Linked DNA regions of Homo sapiens. The protein of the gene in region 2 interacts with the protein of the main gene of each other region in a pairwise test. Each region holds a gene or a part of one and is shown on either strand. Other genes may lie near its edges.

What was found. Proteins that work in one complex are often made in the same cells at the same time.
Region 1: the proteins of BTG3 (region 2) and HECTD2 interact in a two-hybrid assay, tested with the Homo sapiens proteins (one large-scale study listed by BioGRID and IntAct).

Annotation. Positions count from the first base shown.
Region 1 is NC_000010.11:91,413,193-91,416,849, reverse strand, and holds part of HECTD2 (probable E3 ubiquitin-protein ligase HECTD2), read right to left. Parts: intron 1-3,657.
Region 2 is NC_000021.9:17,593,126-17,596,031, reverse strand, and holds the end of BTG3 (protein BTG3), read left to right. Parts: intron 1-1,699; coding exon 1,700-1,939; 3' UTR 1,940-2,379; downstream 2,380-2,906. UniProt on the Homo sapiens protein: Overexpression impairs serum-induced cell cycle progression from the G0/G1 to S phase.

The DNA.
Region 1 (3,657 bases), on a different chromosome or scaffold from region 2:
GGATAATAACTCGGAGGTGAGGGGGACGGTGGAGGTTTATAAAGGCAAAGGCAATACATACAGGGCCTGAGGCTTGATATAGAAGGCTGTTAAGGAAAGTACCAAATCCACAGGACAGGAGTAGAGGAGAAAGGGCTGGCTGGCTTACAAACAGCTTTTCAGCTACAGATGTTGCTTTATAAACACAATCATGTGTCACTTAACAATGAGGATATTTTCTGAGAAATGCTTCATTAGGCAACTTTGTAGCTGTGCAAACATCACAGAGTGTACTTATACAAATCTAGATAGTACAGCTTACTACACACCTAGGTTATATGATATAGCCTATTGCTCACATGATACACACACCTATAGAGCATGTTACCATGCTGAATACTGTAGACAACTGTAACACTAAGTATGCATCTAAACATATCTAAACAGAAAAGGCATTAGACTGCCTTCAGATTATGTGATCTGTCATTGACTAGAACATTGTTATGTGACACACGACTTTAATAATCTCATCTAACACTGAGTGCTTTGTACAAGGTTTTTTTCTAAATGTTTTATGTGTGTTAATTTAGACTTCATTTCTACCTTATGCAGTAGGTTCAATTATTATTTTTGCCATTTTATAGATGGAGAGTTATAAACAGCAAAGCAGAATCGTACTTGACTTTTTTGGAGGTTCTCTGGCTCACAATTTATAATGACCGCTTTTCTCCAATTGTTAAATATAGTTATAAATTATTTGTGTCCTAATGGGTTATTCATGAAGGGGAAAATAAGCAAGCACTACATTATGGCTTTGTGGTTTAAAAAAAAAAGTTGACAAAGAGACTTTACGGCTTTGTGGTTTAAAAAAAAAGTTGACAAAGAGACTTTACAACCCACTCAAACTTAGAGACATGCTGGGTATGTATTTATAAAGCCATAGCCCTCCCTTTTTATGTATTAAGTCTCTTGGACTATTTTGCTTCAATCAGATTGATTTTACATATAATTTAATGATCTATTCATACCATAAAAAAGCAAATAGATATCCTAGAACATATCTTTCCCATGATTGTTCTATCTCTAGTAACAAATATCTGAACAAATTTGTTACTGGACAACATGCTCTTTTTCAAACTAGAAATACTGCCATAGGTGCAGCTTCTTTGTACCACATGGTCCCTATTACCTATGACCGCAAATGTCGAGTGTTCAGAATTGGGCAAAGAACATGAGTCGGAAACATCTCTGTTATAAAGCAACCACTGTCCCTGACTAGCCATTTTACTCCTTAGCAAGGTACACATAACCTGACTCTCAGATTCTTTTTCTGTGAAGTGGAAAAATATCTTCCTCACAGGGTTGTTGTGATTGCTTTTGGTTGCATTATTTAACTAAATAAAAGAATACATGGCAAATGCTTAGCACAGAGTAGGCACTCAATAAGTAGCTATTATTGTTATAAACACTTATTTTGTATATTTGTAATATCTGTAGTTTATTCAATTACTTAAACATCATCACCATAGCATTCATTCTTTCCCATCTCACCTCTTGTTTAGAACATAATGAACAAAGAGCACAACATTTTTCATACAAGATTGTTCCAAATACCTAGCTGGGCATATTGTTGTTAAGTACACACACACACACACACACACACACACACACACACACTTTCTCTAATTTGGAATGCTATTGACCTCATCTGGAAACCTGAGTCCTTTTCCTTTATTAATCTTTCTTCTCTTTCATTTCTGCTGTCTAGTTAGGTCCCACATGGTGTGTATGCTCCCATCCCTTACACTCTGTCCTGTGGCCACCACCTTAGTGGATGCACTCATTGCCTCAGGCATGAGCTACAAAGCTCTTTTCTTCACTTTCTCCCTCCTCTAGTTTAACTATACACTACCACTGATTTCATTATGTTGTTCCTCTGTTTCAGAAATTGCAATAGCTTCCCACTAACCGCAGGGGGAAAAAAAAACTGTCTAAGCTTTTCTGCCTAGTGATCTGGCTCCAGCCCCCATGCAATCTTTCTCACCTCCCACAAGTTCCCAGCATGCTTCCACTGGGCTCGCTTTATTACTCACTAATTTTTCCTTTTAAGCCTTGCTCATGCTGTTTTCGTCACTGGATTACTTTGCCCACTTTCTTCTGCCTATCCAAATCCTATCATTTTTCAATGGCCAGCCAGCTTAAATAATTACCTTTACTTCAAGGCCTTTCTTCACAGTTCTGCACACAGTGATCTCCTTTCTCTCATCTCTGATAGTACAAATTGTTTCTATGGCTCATTGTGGTTTTTACATATTGCTTTGCTTTTCATGTGTTAACCCTGCATACCCTGAGGCAGAGACCATTTTTTAAAACCTTGTCTTTTTGCATTTTTTGTAGCACCTAGCACAAAGCTAAACATAACAGATGTTCAATAATTGGTAGTTACATTTTGTCCCAGGGACTCCATCAACCCCATTTATACACAACTGATAAGCCAACTTCTCATTCTTGTTACTAAACTTTCCATCAAATTCTCTCGACACACCTTATGCTCACCCTCAAACTCTTCCCCTTGTCTTCCATTATAGGCTAACATCCCTTTAAAATTCTCAACTAAATTCCTCCCATTTCTCTTCACCTCTCTGACCTAAGTCAAATCTAGCTCTTTCTTGAACCCAATGTACTGGTACCCTATCCAGAGGGTTCTACCCCATGTAGAACCTCTCTTTTCTGTTCACCTGATTAGGTGTAGAAGTAGCCAGTCAAATTCATCCTCGCTGCCACTGTTATTTCTGCCCCACCTCTAAGCATTTTCTTCTTTCTCATTCACCACTTTTTTAAACATGTGTAATACATCAGTAACTAATTTATAATATTCCACTCCAATCCATCAACCTCAGTAAATTTAATATTCACATCATCAGCCCTTCATATCCATACATTACTTCAAATTCTTTATTCTGTTTGACTCCATGGATTTGCATCACCTCTCCACAGCAGCAAGGCCAAGACCCAAACACTGAAAGTCTCTGAGGGCTCCATCTTGAGCCTCTTGAGAATCTCTAACTGGAACCACTGCCACTGCCATTTCTTTCAATTCCCCACCACGCCTGATTTCTACTGTCTCTTGTTCACTTCATCCATACCTGTCACAAGTCCATTTCAAACGCTGCTCCACAAACTAAGTAGATTTGGGAGATGGTAATTAAAAAATACAGATTCCTACACCTTGCCCATGGAGCTTTTGATTCAGTATATAGAGTGTCAAGTTTCAATCTTGGTATACCCAGGGAATTAAATTTAAAAAAGATGCCTGAGCAACATCCCCAGAAATTCTGATTTAACAATACTGCATTTGGGCCTGGATAATGATGGCTTTAAAAGTTTCTCAGTTAATTCTACTGTGCATCTAAGGTTGAAAACAGGTGCTCTAGGGTGAGATGTAGGAATGAGGACTTTAATATGCTACCAAGGTAACTCTGTGGTCAGTCAGGCTTGAAACCACTGTGTTAGGCACCTCCTCACTAGCTGGAATGGACTTCCTTCACGTTTAGATGGTCTTAGGATAAAACACTTCAGGGCTGCCCTTTCCAGCATTCTTTCTCCCACCCCTGTACCTTTCTGTAAACATAAAGGATACAGCCTAACTCTTCAACCTTATTTAGGGTCACTGTAAAC
Region 2 (2,906 bases):
ATGGCCTCATTTATGATCAGAGGAATGCAGATTAAATCCATATGAAACACTAGTTCTTCCAGAACTGCACAATTTAAAAGCCTGACAGCATGAAATGTTAGCAAGGATGTGAAGCAGCTAGATTCATAAACTTGCTAGTCATGTAAAATAGTACCACTACTTTGGAAAACTGGAACTTTTTAACGTTAAATGTGTAACTCTTCTATTACTCAGCAGTTCCACTCCTAAGTATTAAATATTTACCAAAAGAAACGAAAATATGCCTATAAAGCCTTCTATTAGAATTAACTGTGCTGTTATTCATTGCAGCATTGTTTTGTTCGTTGTGTATCATTGTTTTTTTAATAGTAAGAGACTGAAAACAGCCTCAATGTCCCATTACTAGGAGACCATTTAATTTATAGTCATTGCTATACTATCTAGCTGTAGAAAAATGAGAAGGATCTTTATGTATTGATATGTTTCTGAAATGTATTATTATGAAATGTAAAAAGCAGGATACAATCCAGTATACATATATATTTTTAAAGTGTGTATAGATGTGGATAGAATATCTCTAAAGGTATATTTAAAAAAATGTTTGGTGTCAGTTGCCCTTGAGAAGGGTTAAGATAAAGAAGATAAAGGGTGAGATAAAAAAAGAGGGACTTTCCACAGTTTACCCTTTTGTACTTTTTGAATTTTCTATCATGAATGCAATGCTATACACAATATAATTTTTTTAAAAAAATCCTATACTTAGAAATGCAGATTTGAGATCAGCAAAATCAGAAATTTAAGAAGATGTGGCATTCTAAGCAGAGAGGTCTAAAACTGCTGATAAGAACACTTTGAATAATGTGAACCTGACGTGCCCACCTGATTTATGGGATAATCTAAAACTATTATTCCCAAATACTAAACTGGCTACATCAGAATCACCTGGGGAGCTTTGTCAAAATACCTGGCCTCTAGTTCTGAGATTTTATTATTGTTCATTAGACCAGTGCTAGGGCATGAATGTTTTGTGTTTATCTTTTTTTTTTTTTAACTTTTATTTTAGGTTTAGGGATACACATGAAGGTTTGTTCCATAGGTAAACATGTGTCACAGGGATTTGTTGTACATATTATTTCATCACCCAGGTGTGAAGCCCAGTACTCAATAGTTATCTTTTCTGCTCCTTTTCCTTCTCCCACCCTCCCCTCTCAAATAGACTCCAATGTCTATTGTTTCCTTCTTTGTGTTCATAAGTTCTTATCATTACCTCCCACTTATAAGTGAGAACATGCGGTAGTTGATTTTCTGTTTCTGCATTAGTTTGCTAAGGATAATGGCCTCCAGCTCCAATGTTTTGTATTTAAAAGCCTCCAAGTGACTCCTGGCTTAGCCAGCTGTGGAAACCACTGGACTAAAACAAGCATGTCCTTACAAGCTTCCATTCGTTCCATGTTTTGGTCTTTTTTGGTTGAAGTTGTTTAGGAAGTACTGTGTTTGAGTTTATTCATTTCTTTATGCATTCAGAAAACATTGGTCACCTGTTATACATTATACGCCTATTACACATGAGGTTTTTAATGTATTTAGACCTGACAATAGGAGTGTCACTTAGATGTGATCTCAGTGTTGTGGGTAACTTTGTTTGTCTTTAATGAGAAATCTGGAACATAGATGATGATTTTTTCCTTTGAATTAACTTAATGTGTTCTCTTCCCTACAGATTTCAGAACTTATATTTCCACCTCTTCCAATGTGGCACCCTTTGCCCAGAAAAAAGCCAGGAATGTATCGAGGGAATGGCCATCAGAATCACTATCCTCCTCCTGTTCCATTTGGTTATCCAAATCAGGGAAGAAAAAATAAACCATATCGCCCAATTCCAGTGACATGGGTACCTCCTCCTGGAATGCATTGTGACCGGAATCACTGGATTAATCCTCACATGTTAGCACCTCACTAACTTCGTTTTTGATTGTGTTGGTGTCATGTTGAGAAAAAGGTAGAATAAACCTTACTACACATTAAAAGTTAAAAGTTCTTACTAATAGTAGTGAAGTTAGATGGGCCAAACCATCAAACTTATTTTTATAGAAGTTATTGAGAATAATCTTTCTTAAAAAATATATGCACTTTAGATATTGATATAGTTTGAGAAATTTTATTAAAGTTAGTCAAGTGCCTAAGTTTTTAATATTGGACTTGAGTATTTATATATTGTGCATCAACTCTGTTGGATACGAGAACACTGTAGAAGTGGACGATTTGTTCTAGCACCTTTGAGAATTTACTTTATGGAGCGTATGTAAGTTATTTATATACAAGGAAATCTATTTTATGTCGTTGTTTAAGAGAATTGTGTGAAATCATGTAGTTGCAAATAAAAAATAGTTTGAGGCATGACAACGCGTGTTTCTGTTGTGTGCATAAAAGGGGAAAAGAACGGGTATTTCCCTTCAATGTATTTAACTAAATAGCAAAAACATTAAACAGAACGTAAGAATTTTAAAATTTCCTTTGAAAAATCAACTATTAACCATACTTTTCCTAAAAGACCACATATCAGAATATGCATATGAAAAGTTAAAAATTTGTTAGTGGTAGTTATTGAAAATATAATAAAACATCTTTTAACTATCAGTGTCACTATACATAGGGTTTTTTAACAAAGAATTTGGCTCGTACTAATTTTGACATGACATCTGACTTACATGTCTAATGCCATTGCATAAAGTAGATGTGTTCTTACAGCTGCTCTAATCTCTGTGCCTTGTGCTTTTTTTAAAAAACATTTAAGTCTTTACTAGAGGCCTAAAATAAAGTCAAATAATACAATACTTCAGATTCTTCAGTAGTCCATATTTATACAACTGTAATTCCATCAGTCTTGTAAGGGTACTTGAACTACAAAAAGAAAAAAAGAGATATCT